2 separate regions of the Homo sapiens genome follow, and region 2 is linked to region 1. The links come from fine-mapping of genetic effects on gene expression. A gene starts in region 1. The other region holds a variant in brackets. All regions are shown on one strand. Distances are between the middles of the regions.

Region 1 (12,362 bases):
CCCACATGGCAAAACCCCCGTCTCTACAAAGAAATACAAAAATTAGCTGGGTGTGGTGGTGTGCACCTGTAGTCCCAGGTACTCAGGAGGTTGAGGCTGCAGTGAGCCGTGATCATGCCACTGTACTCTATCCTGGGTGACAGATTAAGACTTATCTCAAAACAATGAAAGAAAAAAAATATGGGAAGACTGGCCTAAGGAGAGGGGAAAGACAGAAGACCTGGCCAGTCTTGACCCCAAGCTCTGAGTCAGACCTGCTTCTATAGGTCTTCTGAGATCCTTTGGTATTATACAATGTTCTCTCTTTGGGGATCAGTAGGTCCACCGTAGCACCCCTATGGCTGAACCTGAAATGAGTCTCTATTTTGTGTGGCCTCCTGTAGAAGCCAACAGGTGTTTCCTGGTGACCTCTACCATTGCCCATCATTTGGCTTGCCATATATTGACATCCTACTTTTAACCACAAATTGGGAATGGGCTCACCTATAGTCTTTCTACTGGAAAGAACAGTTTGAAATGCAATGCCCCAGAATAGAAATGGCCCAGGTAAGATGTGCTCCAGTGCTGACAGGCTGTATTATCCAGGGGCCTGGTAGCATGGGTCAGTTTATTAACCACAGGGACATGCTGCAGATGGCTCCTCTTGATAGGTTCATCACAGGACACTGCACAGCTCCAAGCAGACACCACGCAGGAAAATGGGGAAGATCCCATGGCCAAGGCAGACAAGGGGAGACCAATGCTATAATTTACAGACTAAGGAATTCTTCCTTGCTCCAAAGTCAAAAAGAAGCTAGAGATGCCAGTTTTTCTGCAGAACCTTGAGCAAACTTAAAGTTACCTATGACAAAAGTTCTGGCTCCAACCCCTAAGTCCCTCCACTCAGTCAAATTATGCAGCCATTAAAATATAAGATTGCTGGGCACAGTGGCTCATGCCTGTAATCACAGCACTTTGGGAAGCCAAGGTCGGAGGAATGTTTGAGCCCAGGAGTTTGAGACCAGCCTGGGCAACATGGCAAAACCGTCTCTACAAAAAATACAAAAATTAGCTGGGTGTGGTAGCGCAGGCCTGTGGCTCCAGCTACTTGAGAGGCTGAGGCAGGAGGATCACATGAGCCCAGGTGGAGGCTGCACCGAGCCGTGATCATGCCACTGCACTCCAGCCTGGGCAACAGAGCGAGACGCTGTCTCAAAAAAAGGTACAAGACTAGCAATACAGAAAAATGACAGATACAGAATTTTGTACTCAGAAGGAAATAAACCAGTTCTATTCTACCTACTTTTGGGTTGATGGTAAAATGGGAGATTTTCCTCCTTTGCTATATTTTTTCAAATTTCCCATAATGAGCATAAATTATTTTTTTTCTTTTTTGAGATGGAGTTTCGCTCTTGTCACCCAGGCTTGAGTGCAATGGCGTGATCTCAGCTCACTGCAACCTCTGCCTCCCGGGTTCAAGTGATTCTCCTGCCTCAGCCTCCTGAGTAGCTGGGATTACAGGTACGCACCACCATGCCTGGCCAATTTTTGTATTTTTAGTAGAGACCGGGTTTCACTATGTTGGTCAGGCTGGTCTCAAACTCCTGACCTCATGATCCACCCACCTTGGCCTCCCAAAGTGCTGGCATCACAGGCATGAGCCACCGCGCCCGGCCTATTATTGCTTAAAGAGGCGGTTTTCATTATGTTGCCCAAACTGGCCTTGAACTCCTAGCCTTAGATGATCTTTCTGTTTCAACCTCCTGAGTAGCTGGGACTAAAGGTGTGCACCACTCCTCCTAGCTAGAAGAAAAATAATTATTATTATTTCTGTAGAGATGGAGTCTTGCTATGTTGTTCAGGATGGTCTTGAACTTCAGGCCTCAAGCAATCCTCCTGCCTTAGCCTCCCAAAGTGCTAGGATTATAGGAGTAACCCACCGTACCCTTGCTGAAAATTATTTTGAAGTCTATGTCCATGTGTATTCATTCATTCATTCATTCATTCATTCATTCACTCAGAATCAGGGTCTTGCTCTGTCGCCCAGGCTGGAGGGCAGCAGTATGATCATGGCTCACTGCAGTCTTTAACTCCCGGGCTCAAGTGCTCCTTTCTTGGCCTCCCAAAGTATTGGGATTACAGGTGTGAACTACTGAGCCCAGCCCATATTTTCAGTTTCACTACACACAGCATTTTGTACTGTTAAACATATATATTTTCGCCCACAATCAGTTTTCATGGTTATCAGTTCTAAGGGTCCAGACAGTTGTATGTGTCAACCTCTTGGATATAATTTTTAACCTCCATGTATAGTGTTGCAATGAATGTGCCATTTCCTGCATTTGAAAAGTATCTCACTCATAAGGTTTTTGTGAGGATTAAATGAGTTAAATTAAAAGAAAATATAACAAGTACCTAGCACGCTATTTGACATAATTACTTAGTCAATCAACAGTAGCATTTGTTAATATCATAGCTTAGCTTAGCTGTTTGCTTCTGCTGAATTATCTCCCTAGGATAAATCTTGGAGGTGAGACTACTAGTTAAAAGGAACTGAAGTCCTTTAATTTTTAAATTTCCTATTAAATTTATCTAATAGGAATTTATTTGCTTAAAATGTAAATTGTGTCAATTTAAGGAGAAATTCATTGTAACATAACATAGAAATGCTGTCATTTTTAAATTTCCTTAGAAATTTTTAATTTTAAAATTTTCCTAGATTATGCATGGCTTTAGATCCAAACAATAATAAATTTACATATGTAAAACATGGCTCCCATGCCATCCTGTTTTCCAAAAGGCTTGCATCAATTTTATTCCTACAATTGTGTACGCTTTTAATCATTGCCTTGCCAGCATTGCTATCAACTACTTTTTTCCTGCTAGTCTAGTATGCATAAAACCTCAAGCATGCTTTAAGCTTAAATTCATTTTTCCCCTATAATTACTCTGTGCAAACATTTTTGGTATGTTTAGAGTCGGTATTGCTTTACTGGAAAAATCTCTGTTCATATCGGTCATCAGTTTATCTCCTAGTTTTCTTTATAAAATTAAATTAGCTATTTACTCTTGTTTTTTGAGATGGAGTTTTGCTCTTCTCGCCCAGGCTGGAGTGCAGTGGTGCAATCTTGGCTCACTGCAACCTCTGCCTCCCGCGTTCAGGCGATTCTCCTGCCTCAACCTCCCGAGTAGATGGGATTACAGGCGCCCGCCACCACGCCCGGCTAATTTTTGTATTTTTAGTAGAAATGGGGTTTTGCCATATTGGCCAGGCTGGTCTTGAACTCCTGACCTCAAGTGATCCACCCGCCTCAGCCTCCCAAAGTGCTGGGATTACAGGCATGAGCCACTGTGCCCGGCCTAGTGAACTATTTACTTGATTCAATTCCACGGAGCATTGGTTTACTTTACACATTTTGTAAGTCATGCATTAGTCTGGAATGTTTTGGTGAAAGATGTGGCTATGGACATCATACACAAATTGCTATCCACTTACACTAGCACCAGCTGGACGTGGTGGCTCACGCCTGTAATCCCAGCACTTTGGGAGGCCGATGCGGGTGGATCACCTGAGGTCAGGAGTTCAAGACCAGCCTGGCCAAGGTGGCGAAACCCCGTCTCTACTAAAAATACAAAATTAGCCGGGTGTGGTGGCTCATGCCTGTAATCCCAGCTACTCGCGAGGCTGAGGCATGAGAACTGCTTGAATCCAGGAGGCAGAGGCTGCGGTGAGCCGAGATCGCGCCACTGCACTACAGCCTGGGCGACAAGGGCGAGACTCCATCTCAAACAAAACAAAAACAACAATAAACAATTACACTAGTACCATTTGCTTGTTGCTTGTGGATTCATTTTGAATTATAATTGTTTTAAGTTGCAAAAATAATTAAAATGAGTTCTATAAAAATGTTTATCAAGAGAGGGCATATTGGCTAGGCGCAGCGGCTCATGCCTGTAATCCCAGCACTTTGGGAGGTTGAGGCGGGCGGATCACTGAGGCCAGGAGTTCAAAACCAGACTGGCCAACATAGCGAAACCCCGTCTCTACTAAAAATACAAAAATTAGCTGGGTGTGGTGGCTCACGCTTGTAATCCCAGCTATTTGGGAGGCTGAGGTAGGAGAATTGCTTGAACCCGGGAGTTGGAGGTTGCAGTGAGCCAGCATCATGCCAATGCACTCTAGCCTGGGCAACAGAGTGAGACTCTGACTCAAAAAAAAAAAAAAAAAGAGAGGGCACACTTTATGTTGAGAATTTTCTGGTTTTTTTTTTAGAGACAGTATCTTGCTCTGTTGCTCAAACCAGAGGGCAGTGACTTGATCACAGCTCACTGCAATCTCTAATTCCTGAGTTTAAGTGATCCTCCTGCCCCAGCCTCCCCAGTAGCTAGGACTACAAGCGCGTGCCACAATGCCCAGCTAATTTCCTCTTCCTTTTTGTAGTGACAAGGTCTTGCTTTGTTGCCCAGGCTGGCCTCAAGCGACCCTCCTGCCTCAGCCTCCCAAAGCGCTGGGATTACAGGGAGTATTTTATTTTTTTTTGAGACAGGGTCTCACTCTGTCACCTAGGCTGAAATGCCACTGCCGCACAATCATGGCTCACTGTAGCCTTGACCTCCCCAGGCTCAAGTGATCCTCCCGCCTGGGCCTCCCTACGTGCTAGGATTAGGCGTCAGCTACTGTGCCCAGCCTCAAGGAGAATTTTCCATTTCTGTAGTTTTGCTGCATGTAGTAGACTTTTTTTGGAAGTGATTGCAAATGAAGTTAGCAAATGTAATATAAAGAAAAGCACTGGATTAAATGTGAGAAAACTTGCATTCTAGACCTAAATCTACCTCAAACTTGATATGCTATCCAGGACTATTCCTTTAACCTCTCTTTGATCAATTTTCCTACCTGCTCTATCTCTATTTTGCTCCAGTGATCCCCATCTCAGTCAGGGTGAAAGGCAATGTCCTTGCAAGTACCTAGCAGGCATCCTCCCCTCAAATTCCTTACTGCTCTCCTCTAGCTCACCGGGCTCCAGGCACCTTGCAAGGAGCAAAGAAACGGCTTAAGGGCCTCTTTACTTTCAGGTTCTCTGCCTAGAAGTCCTCTCGATATGTGGAATACCCTGCCATTCACCTTCTGCAAGTCTTCACTCAAATGTCATTTCCTCAGTGACACTCTCACTGAAGTGGCACCACTCTTCCTGCTTTGTCTCCCCGCCTCCTTACATCCCTTATCATCATCTGACACTGAATAGACTTGTTTACTGTTTCTGTCTACCTGCATGTTAGGTCCTCACTGCTGTATCCACAGAATCTAAAAAAATACCTGGCATATCGTAGGCACGTAGTAAACACATGTTGGATGAACAACCAAATCTGTAAAATGAGGCCGTCACGCCGGATGGATCATCCATCCCCTTAAGATGAAACTGTGCTGCGACTGGGCCCAGTCTTCTTGCATTACCATCCTGAGAAGCCCAGCGACCACCTTCAGGGGCATACTCACTTTGCAGGAGCCTGCAGAGGCGGCTTCAGGTTCTCCCTCCTCGTGGACAAGGTCTAACAACTGAAAGCCCGAGTTCCCGGCGGCTTCTGGGTTCCCCGGCGTGTACTCGGACTCCTGGCCGCTCGAGGTGGTCCCCAAGGATCGGCGGCTGGAAAGCACCCGGTAGCGGCCCTCCTGCCGGACCTCCCGAGCCGAGGCGCGGAGATTACGGCGGACACGCTGCTGGCTGTCCCGTGACGGGCGCAGAACTTCCCGCAGGAGAGGCTGGACTGGTTCCTCCTAGGGGGCAACAGGGGACGGAGGCCAGCGTAAGCAGGAGTTCGCGAGCGGGTCAGGGATCGGGTTTCGTACCGGCTGCACCCGAAGATGCCCTCCACACCAGCTGCACCACGCCCAATACCTGGGAGCACACAGTGGCCACCAAGTGGAAGACATTATTCTCCGCCGCTCTCTCCAAACCCTCCGACGTCTTCTGTGCCGCTGACTCGACCGCGTCGCTCCGGAGGCGTTTACAAGCGAGCACAAGAGCCTCCGCCGGCTCCGCACTGCGCTTCCGCTTCACCCGGAGTACAGCGGTCCTGGCGGCCTCCATAGTGGCTGCCGCTGAGCACTGTGGGAGCTCGCGGGGTGTGATGGGATAGCTTTCCAGTTCTGCTTTAGGACCCGCCCCCCAGCACGCTCCTCGACGCTGCGAGGTCCCGCCCCGCGTGCTGGCCGCGGTAAAAGTGGTAGCAGCGGAGGCGAGCGGAGGGTTTCCCGCGGCGGGTGAGGCGCTGGGTATGCTGGGAAGGTGGGGTCGCTTTGGGGTTCTGTGTGCAGCGAGCATGGTGTCCTTGGCACCAGGGTTTCGGCAGAGGAGCCTAGCGTGGGCCTACTTGGACTCCTCCGCGTGGGGCAGCTCGGGACACCCGGGCCTGCAGGAGAGCGGGGTTCTAGGCTGGCCCCGGCTCTGCAGTGCAGCCGGGTGCCTGCCACTCGCGGGGCTCTGTCGCAGTACTCGTGCCTGGCGCCTCCCCTCAGCCACAGAGACCGCAGTAGCTCCAACCATCGCACCCCTAACTGGGCCACGAGTTCTCTGATTGCCAGACCTGTTGTCTTTGCCACTCACTGTTCTGAGTAATTGGAGAGTCGTGTATTCACTACACGCCAACCAGAGTGGTCCTGTAAAAGCGTAAGCCTAGTGTAGATACGCTTCTGCTTAAAACTCTTGAGTGGCTCCCAGTGCTTTTAGAACAAAATCCAAACGCCTTTCCGAAGTCGACAAGGCCCAGCTTGATTGAGCAGAAGATGTGATAGGAGATGAGGAGCGGGGGGCTTCTGCAAAAGTGCTTCGGTCGCTCAGGCTTTTGGCACATTTTGCTTATGCAACCTAGTTCTTTCTACCTTAGGGCCTTTTCTTGGGAAAGTTGGGGTAAGGATTCCTGACCTGTAAAAACTCTTCCCCAACTTTTATCCCGGTCTGTCTTGTAGATCTCAAATGCTAGTTTCCTCAGAGTCCTTCTGTAACCTTGGTTTTCTCTTTCTACAACGCTCTGTGTATTTCTTGCATTCATGTAGTCTGTAATTTGTATTACTCTCTCATTAGAGTCTAAGCTCTTGGAGGGCAAGGGTCTTCTCTAGCTTGTGGTGGTGGCTCCAGTCCCTAATATAGTGCCTGGCACATAGAAGGTATTTAATAAATTTTGTTATTTTATTTTTTCGAGACAGAGTCTCACTCTGCTGCCTAGGCTGAGTGCAGTGGTGTGATCGAGGCGCACTGCAGCCTTGACCTCCTGGGCTCAAGCGATCCTCACCTCGGCCTACCGAGTAGCTGGGACTACAGGCACGCGCCACTACACTCGGGTAATTTTTAATTTTAATATATGTATATTTATATATATATATATATATATATATTTTTTTTTTTAAGACAGGGTCTCACTCTGTCACCCAGGCTGGAGTTCAGTGGCGCCATCTCTGCTCACTGCAACCTCTGCCTCCCGGGCTCAAGTGATTCCCCTACCTCAGCCTCCCGAGTAGCTGGGAGTAACTGGGACTACAGGCACAGGCCACCGCGCCCGGCTAATTTTTTTAAAAATTTTTTGTAGAGAACGGGGTCTCACTATGTTGCGCAGGCTGGTCTGGAACTCCCAGACTCGATATCCTTGCGTCTCGGCCCCTCACAGTGCTGGGATCACAGGTGTGAGCCACCACCGCCTAGCAAATACATTTTGAATGAATGTAGTGGACCATCTGCTCTGCAGTCTGACGGCTAATACAATTAGGGCTTGGCATGGTGGTTTCTATTTCCTCCTTGTAAATGGCCATGCAAGTTTACAACTCTTGGAGAATGAGGAGGGGTTCAGAGAATATCTCCTGAATCTGTAGTGTAGACTGCTTCTGGGAGAGAACAAATAATAATGGATGAGGGCATTCAGCCAGAGAAGGTGTGTAGTGCCCACCAGAAGAGGTTCATGCCTTCATAAAATTGTTAACACAAGACATAGTTCCAGGTTTGTTTGTTTGTTTGAGATACAGTCTTGCTCTGTTGCCCAGGCTGGAGTGCAGTGGCGCGATCTTGGCTCACTGCAACCTCTGCCTCCCAGGTTCAAGCAATTCTCCTGCCTCAGCCTCCCAAGTAGCAGGGATTACAGGCACCTGCCACCATGCTGGCTAATTTTTTGTATTTTTAGTAGAGACGGGGTTTCGCCATGTTGGCCAGGCTGGTCTCGAACTCCTGACCTCAGGTGATCCACCTGCTTTGGTCTCCCAAAGTGCTGGGATTATAGGCGTGAGTCACCGTGCCTGGGCTGTTCCAGGTTTTGAAAAGACACTGTGGTCCTGGTTTTAGACTCAGCAACATCACAGACAAGAAAGGAATCCTATGGATTAAAGTTCTTCACTATAAGTTTTTTTTTTCCTCCAGTTCAAATGGGTAACGTGCCAATGTAGTAAAGGTTTGAGGGAGGCACGTCTGACACAGGCACATGAACACCCAGTCATCACGCTTATGAACTACAAAACGATGACTCTTAACCTTGAAGTGACTTCAGAATTGATTCCACATGGACCACAGGATTAGTATTTCAGGACTCTACCATATGGATCCTATTGATATGTTTGACACCTGGTCCAGTTTTACTTCACTAAACTGATTGATATAATGTGCATGATTGTCTAAGCCTTTCTAATTGGATGAAATGCCTTCTCCGTCCACAACCCCCTCCTTCTCCTCCTGCCTCAGCTGAATCCACCTTTTAAGCCTTCCTTGAACATTCAGTCAGATATGGCCATTTCTTTCTCTACTCCAACATTTGTTGGACACAGTTTTCTAATGCACATTACAGATTCTGACAGTTCTAGATATTCTGTCTGTAAAATAAATGTTAGTACATGAGATAAAGTGGATTATAGCAATGTTGTTAAACTGCTGGTTGCAACCCATTGATGGGTCCTGACCAGCAAGTAAAAGTGCAGCTGGGTGCCGTGGTGCATGCCGGTAGTCTAGCTACTTGGGAGGCTGACGTAGGAGGATCGCTTGAGTCCAGGAGTTTAAGGCTGTAGAGTGTAATGATCATGCCTGTGAATAGCCACTGTGATCCAACCTGGACAGCAGGGAGATCCCATCTCTTAAAAACAATAAAAATGAAATAGAGCATATCAGAGGGCCTTGTTCGTAGGAAGTCAGTATTGTTTTGTGGAACATTTAGTTGTATGCGTACATGCAGGTATGTGTATTGAGTCTCATTTTAAAGTATATTTCTTACTGGGGTTATCAGAAAGTTTGAAAATCATTAGACTAGGGGATAGGTATGCTGAGATTTTAGTAGTAGAGTTTTACCTGGACAAATTGTCTACTTTGAACCTGACTGCCGGCCTGAGTTTGTTCAGGGAAGATTGTTTCTAATCTATTTGCTTTTTGTTTGTTTGTTTTGGTGACGGAGTCTTACTCTGTTGCCCAGGCTGGAGTGCAGTGGTGCGGTCTCAGCTCACTGCAACCTCCGCCTCCTGGATTCAAGTGATTCTCCTGCCTCAGCCTCCTGAGTAGCTGGGAATACAGACGTGCGCCACCATGTCTGGCTAATTTTTGTATTTTTAGTAGAGACGAGGGTTTCGCCATGTTGGCAAGGCTGGTCTTGAACTCCTGACCTCAGGTGATCCGCCTGCCTTGGCCTCCCAAAGTGCTGGGATTACAGGTGTGAGCCACCGTGCCCAGCCTGTTTCTCATCTATTTGTGTAAGAATTCCATGTTTACTTACTCTAGATAACTTCAAAAGAAAAAAAACTCTGGCCAATAAAATGCCATAGGAATGTTTAGGGATATGTGGAGTAGGCATTCTTTCTAAGTTTTCCTGAAGATGCACCAATGTTTAACAAGAAAGGAAGGGCAGTGTAGAACACCTATTGCTTTCTGCATGGTAAGAGGGATGGGTATTGGGAGAGCCCACACCTGCTGAGGAGTGCCTTTAGACTTTGAGCGGTGGTGTTTCTCTCCCTCCCAGAAATAGATCTCTTTGGGGAGACAGGCCATACAAGACGTGAATCTGGTGACATTTTACTTGTTTGAAGCAAAATTTTTTTAGATGATGGAGGGTTTTTAAAAATTGCTTTTAAAATTAAAATTTGAATAGATAAGAAGTAATCACTATAAAAAATAATGAAGCATAAGGAATGCTAGTATTAGCTGGGTGTGGGGCACTCACTTGTAGTCCCAACTACTGGAGAGGCTGAGGCAGGAAGAATGCTTGAGCCCAGGAGTTTGAGTCCAGCCTGGGCAACATAACGAGACCCCATCTTTTAAAAAAAAAAAAAAAGAAAAAGAATGCTAATATCGTGAACATTTATGTTCCCACCACCCAATTTAAGAAAAAGAACAATACTTTTGAAGTCCACTGCGTACCCCTCCTTGATCCCATCTCTTTCCCTTCTCTTTTAGGAGTTAACTATCCTGATTCCTTGCTATGCTTTTTAGTGTGATCCCTGAAGAACGTATCACTCCATTTTGCATAGCTATAAATTTCATAGAAATGGAATCGTATTGCATGTGTTGTGTGATTTGCTGTTTTTGCTCATCATTATATTCCTGGGATTATCCATTTTTAGGTTTATGTGTGACTGTAATTTATTGTTTAGATGAAAGTTTTCCTGGTTTGACTTGCTCTATCTTCATATTTTTCCTTAAGCTAAGGGTTCAGCATACGAAGGCAGTATTGGTGGCACTTCTTTAACAGTACCCCATCTCTTCTCCTAGCCTTGAGGGCTGCACCTAGATGAACTTGTGAGGCTCATTTGAACCTTTTGGAAGCACCGAAGCCTGCTGAAGTTTCCAGACATCTGTATGAATCTGTTGTAGTTTTTTAATGTTATATGCTGAATATAAAACCAAGTAACTCCTGCTGGAAACATTTACAATATCGATTAACAAATACTATCAGTGGCTTTGACATTTTTGTCAGTTTCTTGATTTTTTTCCCCGCTTTTGTCTCCCCTTCCCCCCTCCACATTTTGGGGCATTGTGCTGTTAATAGATTTTTTTTCTGTTCGTTTGTTTATATACCTCCTGTTTCCTTCTGATGTTAATAGATTTCTGACAGTCAGACTTGTCCACAAGAACTCAACTGGCAAGGCTGCTTTTCTGTGCTAAAACTGGGGAGCTAGTGGGCACCATGAAGATCTTCTGCAGTCGGGCCAATCCGACCACGGGGTCTGTGGAGTGGCTGGAGGAGGATGAACACTATGATTACCACCAGGAGATTGCAAGGTACTGGGTTGGTTTACAGCAGGCTGCAGCTGGGTGGGGCACTTGATCTCAAAGCAGATGCCTTGGGCTCCAGTCTGAGCGTGGGCTAGGCTGTCACCCAGTGCTTATGATGAGGGCTGGTGTTGGTCCTGAGCAGGTCTGCTCAGCCAGGTAGGTATATGTAGCAGTTAGGCAAAATCATGCCTGTTTGGAGAGTCAGACATTATGTAGCAGCCTTAGCAGAGCCTCAGCATCTGTTTAACGGAGCAAAGAAAACCCAAGCCTCAGTAGTGTTGATGAAGTTGAATCATTTACTTGCCTTACTGAAATGGTGACATGTTCATCATATGGTTAAATTCTTTTGAATGAAAAAAATGAAAATGGTTTTTTTTTTCCCTTAGAAGAAATATTTAAAAGTATGTGAGTTGTTGGCCAGGCGCAGTGGCTCACGCCTCTAATCCTAGCACTTTGGGAGGCCGAGGTGGCCAGATCACCTGAGGTCAGGAGTTCGAGACCAGCCTGACCAACATGGAGAAACCCCGTTTCTACTAAAAATACAAAATTAGCTGGGCATGGTGGCTCATGCCTGTAATCCCAGCTTACTTGAGAGGCTGAGGCAGGAGAATCACTTGAGCCTGGGAGGCAGAGGTTGTGTTGAGCCGAGATCGAGCCATTGCACTCCAGCCTGGGCAACAAGAGCGAAACTCTGTCTCAAAAAAAAAGTATGTGAGTTGTTATGTAGCAATCATTAAGTGCATTCAGTGTGCCAGCATTGTGCTAAGGCTGTGGATACCAGATGAAGAAGATCCTGTTCTCATCTTCAAGGACCATGCAGTTTTGTGGAAGAGACAGGCACATACAAAATTACAGCACAAAAGCCAGGCACGGTGGCTCATGCCCGTAATCCCAGCACTTTGGGAGGCAAAGGGCGGGCGGGCGGGCGGTGGAGGGGGTGGTGGCGGCTGATCACTTGAGGGTCAGGAGTTCGAGACCAGCCTGGCCAACACGGTGAAACCCCGTCTCTATAAAAAAAAATTAGCTGGGAGTGGTGGTGGGCGCCTGTAATCCCAGGTACTCGGGAGGCTGAGGCAGGAAAATCACTTGAACTCGGGAGGTGGAGGTTGCAGTGAGCCAAGGTTGTGCCACTGCACTCCAGCCTGGGTAACAGAG
Region 2 (12,362 bases), 42 kb after region 1:
TCACCTTTCTAAAATTTTCTAAGATGTAAATCTGATCATGTCGCTCTCCTGCCTGAAAACCTTTGCTCCCTGCTACCTGTAGCAGGGGACTCGGCTTGGGGATTACAGATGGGGCTTAGAGGGAGGGTCTCTTGAGGCCCTTGGGGGTGTGTACAGAAATAGGTGTGAATGTGTGCATTTTGGGGGATGGGGGGAGGATCCAAGCCATCCTGAGTTTCTCTCAGAGGGGTCTGTCACCCAGAAAGGCATCCTTGCCTTTGGGCAGTCAATTGTGAACACTCAAGCCTTGGAGGCTCTCAGCTGTCTGTGCTCTAACCAGACAGGGAAGAAGCCTGTTGTCATGGACTGGAAGGTGGCCTGCAGGTGGTGCAGGCCTTCAGCGGGGCCTCTAGGCTGGGTTGAGGGGTGTCTTTCCTGACACTGGGGACAGGTGGGGAGATGTGAGCAAGGCGGGCATGTTTGTGGCTGGGGGTGGTTACTGCATGAGGACGCAGGGGGATGGTCTGAGGTCTGGGCAAGTGGAGTGAGAAGGGAAGTATTTCTGACAGCTTGCCAGCAGGAATCTTCTGGCAAACTGGAGGAAGCCCTGTGCTGAGCTTGCCTGTTCCCCGCAGGTGCTGAAGCCAGACAGCGTGTGCCTGTGTGTCAGCGATGGCAGCCTGCTCTCCGTGCTGGCCCATCACCTGGGGGTGGAGCAGGTACTGACATGCACCCTTGTCAGCCTCCTGATGTGGGCTTGTGAGTTAGAGCATTGCGTGGTCCGGGTGCACAATTCTGTGATCAAGGCTCTTTGCAAAGGCCACTGTTGTGGGCACAGCATGCTCGGGTCAGGGGCTGGGGGGTTTATTGCCTGTGCGTGCAGGCAGGCGTCAGGCCTCAGAGCTGGTGTTCAGGCTGCCCCAGGGAGGGAATGAGGGCAGGGAGGGTTGTTCAGGTGTGTCCTCTGTCTTAGGATGGTCTTGTCGCATTTTAATCTTTAATTTCTTCTCTGTTAAGTGAATATCTTACAACTAATAGCGTGGTGTTCCCTCTAGGTGTTTACAGTCGAGAGTTCAGCAGCTTCTCACAAACTGTTGAGAAAAGTAAGTGAGAATTGTTGTTGCTGAAATAGTGAGAGGACCTGTGGGGTCTGGGTTGATGGCTTTGAAGTGGCATTGGCCCCAGGGGAACAAAGGAGTGGTGGCTCGCTTGCACCCCTGTGTTGTCTTGGTTGCTGCCTGGAGAGCAGCCAGAGGCCTTGGGAGCTGTCACTGAAATAGAGGCAGGCATTTGCACTCTGCTTTGTTTTTTTGTGTCTGAAGAAGTTTAGGCTTTTTTCCTCACTTCACATAAGCTACTGTTGCGGTAGAATTAAATGTAGGATGTGTTTCTGGGACATCAGTGCTGAGGGAGCCAGTGCTCACAGCCTGATGGGAGATGGCATTTCTCTCCCTGGCCAGTAACTGGTTTGATTTCCTCTCCAAAGGGGAACTCCCTTCACCAGAACTGCAGGCTCGCACTGAGTCCTGGTGTGCACATGCGGGAGAAATTTCTTTTGCTTTTATCACATTGTGCTCCTGATCTCATCCGTGGTCTATAGGATGCCCCCCAAGGAGAGGATTTTTCCACAAAGCAGATAAAAGTGGTGTTCCAGAACCATTTGCCGGAAAATTCAAAGCGGAGAATGCAACTTTGAGAGATTTTTTTTTCCTGACAAACACAATACTTTAGTATGAATACAGTAATTTTACGGTTTTCTTTCTAAGATCTTCAAGGCTAACCACTTGGAAGATAAAATTAACATCATAGAGAAACGGCCGGAATTATTAACAAATGAGGACCTACAGGGCAGAAAGGTGAGTAGCGGGAGCCTTTTGGCCACGCTGGGCTGTGTTAGGGTGGTCAGCACGGCACTGAAGTAGCCCAGGCCCCACCCTGTCCCTGGAGTCTCACAGTGGGTCCTCCACATGCAACCTTACCTCCTACGAGCTCCCACCATCAAGGGTGTGGTGAAGCTTTCATGGAGCTGCCCGGTGAGCAGATGGTTGCACTGCTCTTTTTTTTTTTTTTTTTTTTTTTTTTTTGAAAATGGGGTCTCGCGCTGTCGTCCAGGCTGGAGTGCAGTGGCACGATCTTGGCTTACTGCAGCCTCGACCTTCCAGCCTCAAGCGATCCTCCCACCTCTCCCGAGTAGCTGGGACTGTAGGCATGTGCCATTATGCCTGGCTAATTTTTGTATTTTTTGTAGAGTCAGCGTTTCATCATGTGGCCCAGGCTGGTCTTGAACTCCTGGGCTCATGCGATCTGCCAGTCTCAGCCTCCCAAAGTGTCGGGGTTACAGGCATGAGCCACCACACCTGGCTGTACTGCTCTTAGCTCAGCCTCATCTCTGCTCCTTCAGGTCAGGACAGAGCAGCTCTCTTGGGGTTCCTAGGAGCAGAGCATGTCCTTTCCTCTCCACCGCACTCCTGTCTTCATTCCCCGTCCACGGCTTCCTGCTGCAGTCAGGCTTCCGGGCCCTGAAACTGCTTCTGCCAGCAACCTCGTCGTTACTCCCACGGTCTCCCTGCAGGCTTCATCTGCTCTACCCGCTTGTCCTTGTGACCCGGGACTTCTGCCTGTGCTGGGGAGGTCGCTTTCCCCTCACCTTCCTGGCTGCTCCTTACCTTGCACTGCTCCGTGGCACTCTCCCCGTGTCCCCCGCTTCCCCTACTGCATCCTCTCTGGTAATCACGTTCCTTCTCATGTGTGAATCAGTGACCATCAGAGCCGGCCTTCACTCTTTACTATTTTGGATTCAAATCTCATGTCCAGCTGCCATCCTGTCACCTTTCCTTGAATATGCCACAAACTGGACTCACCCAACGCGGAGCTATCATCTTTCATCTTTCCTGCCAGTCTTTTTTTAAATAACAGCTTTATTGAGATGTAGTTGACATACCACAAAATTAATGCATTTCAATTGTACAGTTGAGTGATTTTTTTAAGTAAATATATGGAGTTAGCCGTCACCCAGTCTCATTTAGAACATTTCCAGGCCCGACATGGTGGCACATGTCTGTAATCCCAGAACTTCGGAAGGCCAAGGTGGGAGGATCGCTTGGACCCAGGAGTTCAAGACCAATCTGAGTAACATAGGGAGACCCTGTCTCTATAAAAACAAAAAAAATTAACCGAGTGTGGTGGCACGTGCCTGTAGTCCCAGGAGGCTGAGGTGGGTGAGGTGGGAGGATCGCCTGAGCCCAGGAGTTGGAGGCTGCAGGGAGCCGTGCTTGTGGCAGAGCACTACAGCATGGCTGACAGAGTGATACCTTGTCTCTAAAAAAAATGGGAATGAAAAGAGAACATTTCTGTTACCTCCCAAATTCCTGGGAGCCTGTTGATAGTCTGCATCCCCATGCCCCAGGCCTGGCAGCCACTGGTCTGGTTTGTGTCTCCAGTATGTGCCTCTTCTGGCATATCTCAAAAGTGAGGTACGCAGTGTGTGGTCTTGTGAGTCTGGCTCCTTTCGCTGAGCATAATGTCTTTGAGATTCACCCATTTCGTTCTTTTGAAGGCTGTGTAGCATTCCACGGTGTGGCTATCCATTCATGTGCTTATGGACGTTTGGATTGTGTCCAGTTTTTGGCCACTTTGAATAAGGCTTCTGTGAACATGGATTCACTGGTCTTAGAGAGGATGTATGTCCTCAGTCTCTTATGCAGATGCCTTGGTGTGGATTGCTGGGTCATGTGGTAGTTACGATCGACTTTTTAAGAAGCTGCTGAACTGTTGGTTGAAGTGGCTGTCCTTTTGACATCCCCATCGGTAACATCTGAGGGTCCAGGTTCTCGGATCCTCACCAGCACCTGGCATTGGCTTTTTTTTTTTAGCATAACCATATTAATGGGAGTGTGGTGATGTCTCCACATAGTTTTAATTTGTATTTGCCCAATGACTGATGATGGTGAACATCATTTCGTGTGCTTGTCTTGCTTGGTGAAATGTCTATTCAAGCCTTTTGCCCATTTAAAAAAATAACAGTTTTATTGAGATATAATTCACATACCTTACGATTCACTCAGTGATTTTTGTATATTCATAAGGTTGTGTAACCATCACCACATCAGTTTAAGAACCCTTTCATTACCCATTGGCAGTCATGCACCATTTGTCCGCAGTCCCCCAGCCCTGGGCACCCACTCTTCTCCTTTCTGTCTTTAGCTTGCCCATTCTGGGCATCTTGTGTGAATGGAATCAGACAAGTGTGTGGTCTTTCGTGGCTGGCCTCTCATGTGGCTTCATGTTTTCGGGCTCATCCATGTCGTAGCCTGAATCAATACCTCATTTCTCTTTCTTGCTGAATAAGATTCCATTGTGTGGATAGACCATGTTATTTATCTGTTTCTCAGCTGATGGACATTTGGGTGGCTCCTACTTTTGGGCTGTTGTGAGTAATGCTGCTATAAATATTCATCCACAAGTCGCCTTTTTTCTCCCTCATAGATGAGGGCATAGGAGATGATTCTGAAAGCCACTGTGTGGTGTACCGGTAGACCGGGGTCACATTGAATTGGAGTGGTGGGAGCGGGCGTTCTTGCCATGTTCCTGATGCTGTGTGGGGAGGCGAGGAAGCACTCAGGGCAGCCCCTTCTGTCTGCCAGCATTTCCTGCTGCATCTCCATCATCTCTGACTGGCCCCACTTTGGTGCCTGACTGCTTGGGCCTGCCCAGGGTCGGCTACCTCCTTACCCTCTGCCACTCCTTCCACTCCTCCCACCCCTCCCACCCTGTAGTCTCCGTTTCTTACCCGGACTCTTTCTGCACTCTCCCAGGTCGCCTCCGTCCCCAGCACCTGCAGGTTCCCTTCCACACTTCGTGGTCCTCAGCAGCATCTTCTAAATCACATTCCTTCTGATTTTGAACCCTGATGAAAACTTCTAGTGACATCCACCACCCCCACTGCC[G/A]CCTCCGGGATGAGTCCAGCCCCTCACCCTGTCCTGGCTGCCTTGGGCTGGGCTGGCTTCTGTCCAGCTCCACACCCTCACCTTGGGGGGCCTTGCTGTCTCCCGGCCTCACTCTTGCCCCTGCTGCCCCTCCCTCGGCCGTTCAGGCTCCTCGCTGTGCACGTGTTCATTTACTCACAAATGTTCACAGAACATCTGGTCACGGCACTGGCCCACTGCTGGGGGATGCTGGGCCACCAGTCCCTGCTCTTGTGGTGCTCAGAGCCTGGGGAGGGAGACGGAGACAAGCCCCGGTAAGTCCTGAGATAAAGCGTCCAGTGGGGGTTGACAGGATGCCACTCTGGAAGCCCCGTCTGGCACGTTTATTTCTGGGCTCCCTCCATGACCCCCTTCCTTGCTTTTTTCTATCACATGGGGTCAGCCCCACTTTGTCTGCTTCCCTCTTCTGCTCTGCTCTCCTGAGCACGGGACTCATGTCTGGTTGTAATCTTTACAGCCTCCAGGGCAGGTACAGAGCACCTTGCTGCCTTGCTTGTTTGTTGACTGAGGGAGGGAGGGACTGATGAGGGAGGGAGGGAATGAGTGAGTGACTGAGTGAGGGAGGGAGAGGGAGGGAGTGAGGGAGTGACTTGAGTGACTGAGTGGCCTGTTGCTTCCGTGTTCCTGTTAACACTCCTGGACCGAGCCCTACTGACACCTGGGCCCTGCTTCTCGCCCATTCACCAGGTCTCTCTCCTCCTGGGCGAGCCGTTCTTCACTACCAGCCTGCTGCCGTGGCACAACCTCTACTTCTGGTACGTGCGGACCGCTGTGGACCAGCACCTGGGGCCAGGTGCCATGGTGATGCCCCAGGCAGCCTCGCTGCACGCTGTGGTTGTGGAGTTCAGGGTAGGCCACCCAGGGGATGTTGGAGAAAAAAGCAGAGGAGGCGGGTGGGGAACCTTGTTTTCTTGCAGGAACCTTGGGTGCCTGTAGAGCGGCTCAGGCCTTGATGATTTGAGCTTGTGTTTTCTTTCTGTGTCAGCACACTGTGGGGTTGAATAGAAGATGCTTGCCTTTTAAAAAATGCGATAATTTGACATACGAAATGGAAATGGCTGAGTGTTGTCATTTTACAATTGTGGCTTATCAGAATAATTTAAAAATATAAATTAAGCGTTTCAGAAGCCATGCCGTGTGGCCTGCTCTGCTCTCATTAATAGCCGAGGCTTCGATTGTTAAAGGCATTTTGAGATGGGAGAGTCAGCTGCTTTGTGCAAGAAAAAATGGAAAAGCTTCCTTTTAATTTTCTCATCAAAGCAGAACCATAGTCACAAAGTCATTTTGGGAAGGGCATTTTTATTAAAAGGATTTGAAAAGCTTTACCCTGGATGGAGAGTGTATCTCATTTGATGAGAGTGGTTTTCTCTCCTAGCTTAGTGGCTCCATCACTGAAAGTCTGGGCATTTCTCCTGTGTTACTTGTTTACCTAATCAGATTTCCACATGAATTCTGGTTTTCATGGCCAAAGAGGGGATGTCACGATCCATGCGTGCGTGTGACCAGGAGGAAGGGAGGGAAGGCTGTGTGGCCTGAGTGTCCTCTGGGTTCCTCTTGGCAGGGCCTTTTTCTCTCCCCAGCATCCTCATGAACTGGAGATGATGCTGGGGAGAGAATTGGCTTACAGATTTCTTCCCAAAGAAATGATGTTCAGGATGGCCCGGATAGGAGTGTGCAGCCCCCAGCCTAGGAGCTCTGGCCGACTGTCCCTTATAGGAGAGGACTCAGGTGTCACGTCAGAGCTTGCAGGTTCCCGCCCAGCCCAGTCTGTTACAGAAACCGTTGTGGATCTTTGTTCTCTCTGAGCCCCTTCATACTTGGGGGTCTCTTTCAGGTGTGCAGGGAACAGCAAGATGTGCCTCTTGTTCTTGCTGCCACGCTTCCCTGTGTCCTGGCGGGCGGGTGTGGACGGGGCTGCTCCTTCCTCACAGGACCTGTGGCGGATCCGGAGCCCCTGTGGTGACTGCGAAGGCTTCGACGTGCACATCATGGACGACATGATTAAGGTAGGCAGGGCCACACTCTGCATAGTACCCCCGACCTGCTCCTGTATCGCAGGCCTCTCACAGGGTCCCAGCTTGGGCAGCACAGGCTCTTCTGTTGGGGGCAGTGAGGTCAGGTGCTGCCATTTTGTGTGGTTCAACATGAGCATTGCTTGGTACCAGCCCTGTTCTTGGCTCCGTGCTGTCACCCTGTGTCAGAATCTCCACTGGGCCTGCACGTCCTGTCATTGCAACTGCCCCTGCCAGTGCCCACAGCTTCTTTTCTAGTGGGGCTGACTTTCCAGAGGCCATCTGGGAACCTTCTTAGGCAGCCATTTCCATGGTGGGGGCTCCATTCCCGGGAGGGGTACCTGAGGAGATTCCCACAGGTTATTTACATGGTAGGGGTTAGCAACTGGGCCTACGTTCTCCAGAACCATGGGCTGTCCTGACAGCGCCAGTGGTCCTTGGATTCATGAGGACTGAAGCTGAGAGTCGTGTTCCATCCACATGAGAGGGGCAGGGTGAGGAGCATGGGCCGTGCTGTGTATTAAGGAAATGCACGTGGCTCCTGCTTGTCATCCCAGCACTCTGGGAACCTGAGGCTGGTGGATTGCTTGAGCCCAGACGTTTGAGACCAGCTTGGGCAATATAGCAAGACCCTGTCTCGACAAAAAATAACAAAAAATTAGCCAGGCATGGTAGTGCACACCTGTATTCCCAGCTACTCAGGAGGCTGAGGTGGGAGGATGGCTTTAGCCTGGGAGGTCGAGGCTGCAGTGAGCTGCGTTTGTGCCACTGCCTCCAGGCTGGGTGACAGAGCAAGACCTTGTCTCAAAAAAAGAAATCTCATGGACACCAGAGGAGCGGGAAGCAGCGGTGGCCCCGCAGCAGCAGCTATGCATCGGGAGGTGGGGCTTTTCTGCTTCTGCTCACCTTTCTGCTCTCATTTTCCCATAGTGAACATGGATTGCCTGTGTGTGAACACTTTTTTAAGTAAATTAAACCTTGTGGATATTTTCAGTTTGTATCTTATCTGCCCCTCACAGCAGACCATTGACTGTTCGATGCTTTTAGAAATCTCCTTCGTGCTGAGCCCTGCGTGCTCTGGACCCATGCGCTCTACGCCTCCTCTGGGCCCCTGCTCATGGCCTGCCCACCCTGGCTGTCCCTGTCCCCTCTTGCTGATACGGTTCTGCTACTCTGGTCCTGGGCCAGTGTCTGTCTCTCGTGTGCTAAGGCAGATGGCCGAGAGTGGTGGGTATCCCACAGTGGGGTGCCAGGCATTTTTACTTCTATGCTTTCCAAATCCACCTGCCCTTCCCCACCCTTAGCCTGGCCCTTCCAGTGCCCTGTCTTAGACCTGGCGCCACTTCACACGACCAGCCAGGCCCAGGGCCCCGGGCATCCTCCCTGGCAAGTCCTCCCATCCCCTGCCATTGGTCTTCGTGCTCCTGGTGAGCCTCCGACCCAGGCTGTCCCCTGACTGCTGCCGTCCTGGTTTGAGCCCCTCCTGCTCTGGCCGTCCTCCACACGGAGCCCACATGAACTTGTAGATCTGAGTCTGGCCACATCCCCACTGCAGGAATGCCCTAGCTGGCTCCCCACACCACACCTGCAGAGTGGCCCGGCTGGCCTGGGTGCCCTGGCCTGCTCTCCTGACTTAGCTCTATCCTCAAGGCCCCCTCTGGCCCTTCTCCTGCCGGCTCCCATTTGACCGTCACCTCCCCTCCTCCAGGTAGCTTTCTGCATCCCTCCTGGATGCAGGTGCCCCCAGCCTGCCGCCAGGCACCGGGGCTGTACTGTCACGCATTTATCCCTCCCTGTGGCCCGGGGCCCACCTGTCGGGGCCACACAGCTGTGGTGGTCACCAAGTTTCTAGGTGCTGGGTGTTCTCACCAGTGATGTAGATATGTGGTCCTCAGAAGGCTTGAGACAGGCAGCACCACCCCATCTTAAAAATCCGGAGAGCGAGGCTCAGAGCCAGCGGTGCCTGGGGAGCCACTGATGAGAGAGAAGTGGCAGAGAGGGGGCGCCGCTGGTCTGCTGGGCGCTCGGCATCTTTATGGGAGAACGCACACCCCTTGTGACTGCAGTCAGTGGGAGCCAAGCCGGGGAGCGGTACCTCTGTCTAGCTGCCGGCCTGTCTCTGCAGCCCCCAGGCCCCCTTCTGTTCGCAGCGTGCCCTGGACTTCAGGGAGAGCAGGGAAGCTGAGCCCCACCCGCTGTGGGAGTACCCATGCCGCAGCCTCTCCGAGCCCTGGCAGATCCTGACCTTTGACTTCCAGCAGCCGGTGCCCCTGCAGCCCCTGTGTGCCGAGGGCACCGTGGAGCTCAGAAGGTGGGTGCAGAGAGGGCTGGGGGGCAGGGAGGGGCTGCTGCTTGCCCTTGGAGTTCTCACCCCCGTGGTGAGCACAGCTGGCCTGGGAGACGCTGACACGTGGAGGGGGTATTCGTCCTCCCCACAACCTTGCCCTTCCCTGTCAGAGTGGCCCTGCGCGTGTGGTGGTTCCCACGGTCCTGTGTGTGCCACTGGTGGAGGAGCCAGGAAGGGCTCTGCTCCCCCTCTACAGCTGAGGCTCCCTTGTTGGATCACAGCTCAGGAAGATGGGAGCTTACTTCCTGTGGTCACCGATGCACCATTTTCCTGAACCCTCCTGGGAGCTGAAGCAGGTCAGGGTCAGCAAGTGCTGCTTGCGTCCAGGGACGGGCAGCCCTGTCCTGCTCCGGCCCTCACCCCACCCTCGCCCGAGGAGTGACTTCTCCTGGAAGCACCTCCCAACTCGGGGCAGGCAGCCAGGCAGGGCGGGCGCCATCACCTGAGCTCCCAGGGTTGCTGTCTGGGGCATCAGAGGGGCCTTCCGGCCTTCAGTGCCAGGCTGTGCCTCAAGCTCCCCCAGACCCTGCAGCCACACCGGCCCTGCCCCATGTGTGGCCCGGCTGCAGGGCTCGGGTTGGCTCAGGTGGGGGCTTGGCTGCGGCTCTTCTGGCTGGGGTTTTTCTGAGGAACGTTTATGTAACTGCAGCACTAGGAACTCCCGGCAGGGCAGGAAGGAAGTGGGGAAGACCACAGGTTTCTGGAAAGCCGCAGGAGCTGCAGCTGTTCCCCCGCTGCCTCTTGTGTGACTACTTCTGCTGGGCCCCCCTCTCCTTGACAGGCCCGGGCAGAGCCACGCAGCGGTGCTATGGATGGAGTACCACCTGACCCCGGAGTGCACGCTCAGCACTGGCCTCCTGGAGCCTGCAGACCCCGAGGTAGTGCCTGCGCACCGGGCCCAGTGTGCGTGCAGACCCTGAGAGCAGGCGCCGCCTGGGGAGGCCTCCCTGCCCCCATGCTCTGGGTGTTTCTGTCACAAGTTCTTCGGGCCAGATGATGACCCCTCAGTGGTCCTGGGCCATCTGGCCCCTGAGCAGCTTCTCTCTGCTGCGAGCTGCCTGGGCTGGAGGCTGGCTAGGAAGGAGGCTCAGGTGCCAGGGAGCCCTCACCATCTTCCTGCTCTTCTTCCTACAGGGGGGCTGCTGCTGGAACCCCCACTGCAAGCAGGCCGTCTACTTCTTCAGCCCTGCCCCAGATCCCAGAGCACTGCTGGGTGGCCCACGGACTGTCAGCTATGCAGTGGAGTTTCACCCCGACACAGGCGACATCATCATGGAGTTCAGGCATGCAGATACCCCAGACTGACCACTCTTGAGCAATAAAGTGGCCTGAGGGCTGGGGTTCTGAGTGGCTCATGGCTTTCTAGCGGGGAAGGCTGAAGGCCCTCCTCTCCTCTCTGGGAGCTGCTCGGCCTCAGGGATGGGAAAGACTGCGCCGTGTTGCATCTTGTTGCATCTTTGCACTGCTGGCCTCTGGCTCCAGCTGTGGCAGGAAGCATGAGAGGGTGACTGAATTTGGAGCCCTGGAGGGGCTGGGAAGACCCCCCTGCTTGTGCTTCTGAGGTGCTGAGAATGCTCCAACACAGAGACATCTCTCCCCAGCTGGGAAGGGAGTGGAAGCACAGGGAGCTTGTGGGGCTGGCCGGTGGGGTTGTCCACGCCGCCCTTGGCGAGCAGTCCCCGTGGCGGGAGCCTGTCCTGTCTGTCTCACTCTCGAGGATCTCCGGGTCCCTGCTCTTCTGGCTTCTGCTAGGAGGGTGGAGATGCTGAGTTGTGGCTGGGTCTCTGGGGCTTGAAGACCCTGGCTGGGCCCGGGCTGAGAGGCCTGGGTTCTGGCCCTTTCACCTGACAGGTAACTTCAAGCCACATCCATAGGTGTCTGGCCTCAGTGCTGCACCAGCTGGTGGCCTGCCAGGACCTGAGACTGGACACAAGGCAGCTGTCCCAGAGCAGTTCCTGAGATGCAGGCCCAGGAAAGTGGCTGTCAGGGGAGCTGGGAGGCAGCCCTGTTCCCTGCACCTCCCTCAGATTGGAAAGCCCCTCCTGCAGGTGGGGTATGGCAGGGAGCAGCCCCTGCCCAGCGCCGCTTCACCAGGAAGGTCAGTAGGTGCCGTGGCCTTGCTTCTCTCACACACTAACCCCCCTTTGGTTATGTCCCAGCTCTCAGAGGTAACAGCAGACACCACGTGAGAGAACCCAGTGGCCTCTGGCTCGCAGCTTAGAAGGTGAGGCTTGTGCCAGGCCAGCCGAGCCGCCTGTATGAGCAGAGTTCCGGTGTCCTCGGATTCAGGGCAGACTTGGGCAGTGCCTGTCCTGCAGTTGGGGGCAGGAACTCCCTCCCCTGCCCCCAGGCGTGCCCCTGAGGCCTGGCCCCAGCTTGTCGCTGAAATAAGTGGAGAACACCAGCCTTGAGCCTCACAGTTTTATTTTCTCCTCGTTATCCATCCTTCCTTTCAGCACCAGTAAGGAAAAAGAACACCTCTCTTCGCAAAATATTTTATCAGGTGTAAAGACTTGTTTTTCTTCTAGGGAAGAACCGTCTGGATATATATTTGATAATGTTTTTACCAAAACCATAGGTGTGCTTACCATAGAAAACCCCTAATGTCCCATGAAGATACAATACAGAAAAAAATACAGAAATTAAAAAAGTTTTTATAACAGTATTTCTAAATCTCAGCAAGTTAAAAAGCAATAGTTAAAAAGCATCAAGATTAATATACTTAAAACTTAAGGTGGTTTTGGACAAATGAAAATGAACATTTCCTTCCTCAGTGGCCCCCGCGCCTTGTGGCTTCCTTTGAGACTGGGCCTAGGGCAGGAACAGAGTCTTGGTATGGGCCTCGGGTGACCCGTGTGCCCACCCCTGCTAGGCCTTAGATGCCACAGAATCTGAGATCCAGCAATGGTTCACTTTAAAAAATCAGTGGAAGGGCCTGGCCTGCACACAAGGCCCGGGAGTCCATAGGCAGCCACAATGAGACACGTGGGTGGGGGGGTCCCGGTCTTGGTGCTGAGGGAGGTGTGCGGGGGCCTGGGG

What was found. PIP is the estimated chance that this variant, and not a neighbour inherited with it, causes the effect.
Region 2: its variant is fine-mapped to the expression of PRMT7 in cerebellum (GTEx, PIP above 0.99). The same link has a PIP of 0.9 or more in cerebellar hemisphere, cerebral cortex, gastroesophageal junction, hypothalamus, nucleus accumbens and tibial artery.

What each region holds. Positions count from the first base shown.
Region 1 is chr16:68,304,862-68,317,223 of GRCh38, forward strand. It overlaps PRMT7 (protein arginine methyltransferase 7), which reads left to right and starts at 6,158. Exons shown (of 19, transcript NM_019023.5): 1 at 6,158-6,238; 2 at 7,181-7,315; 3 at 11,036-11,213. The coding sequence starts at 11,119. It overlaps SLC7A6OS (solute carrier family 7 member 6 opposite strand), which reads right to left and starts at 6,085. Exons shown (of 5, transcript NM_032178.3): 1 at 5,874-6,085; 2 at 5,474-5,752. The coding sequence starts at 6,065. LOC124903789 (small nucleolar RNA U13) reads right to left here and starts at 8,479; the gene lies at 8,378-8,479. RefSeq lists an enhancer at 5,090-6,054.
Region 2 is chr16:68,346,597-68,358,958 of GRCh38, forward strand. PRMT7 (protein arginine methyltransferase 7) reads left to right here. Exons shown (of 19, transcript NM_019023.5): 12 at 615-698; 13 at 1,035-1,082; 14 at 1,746-1,835; 15 at 5,652-5,813; 16 at 6,896-6,970; 17 at 9,127-9,287; 18 at 10,105-10,201; 19 at 10,458-11,988. The coding sequence ends at 10,628. SMPD3 (sphingomyelin phosphodiesterase 3) reads right to left here. Exons shown (of 9, transcript NM_018667.4): 9 at 11,731-12,362. Among named protein-coding and RNA genes, the nearest start is that of PRMT7, 42 kb to the left of the region's middle. RefSeq lists enhancers at 2,108-2,608, 9,996-10,155. The variant G/A (reference allele first, on the strand shown) is at 4,926.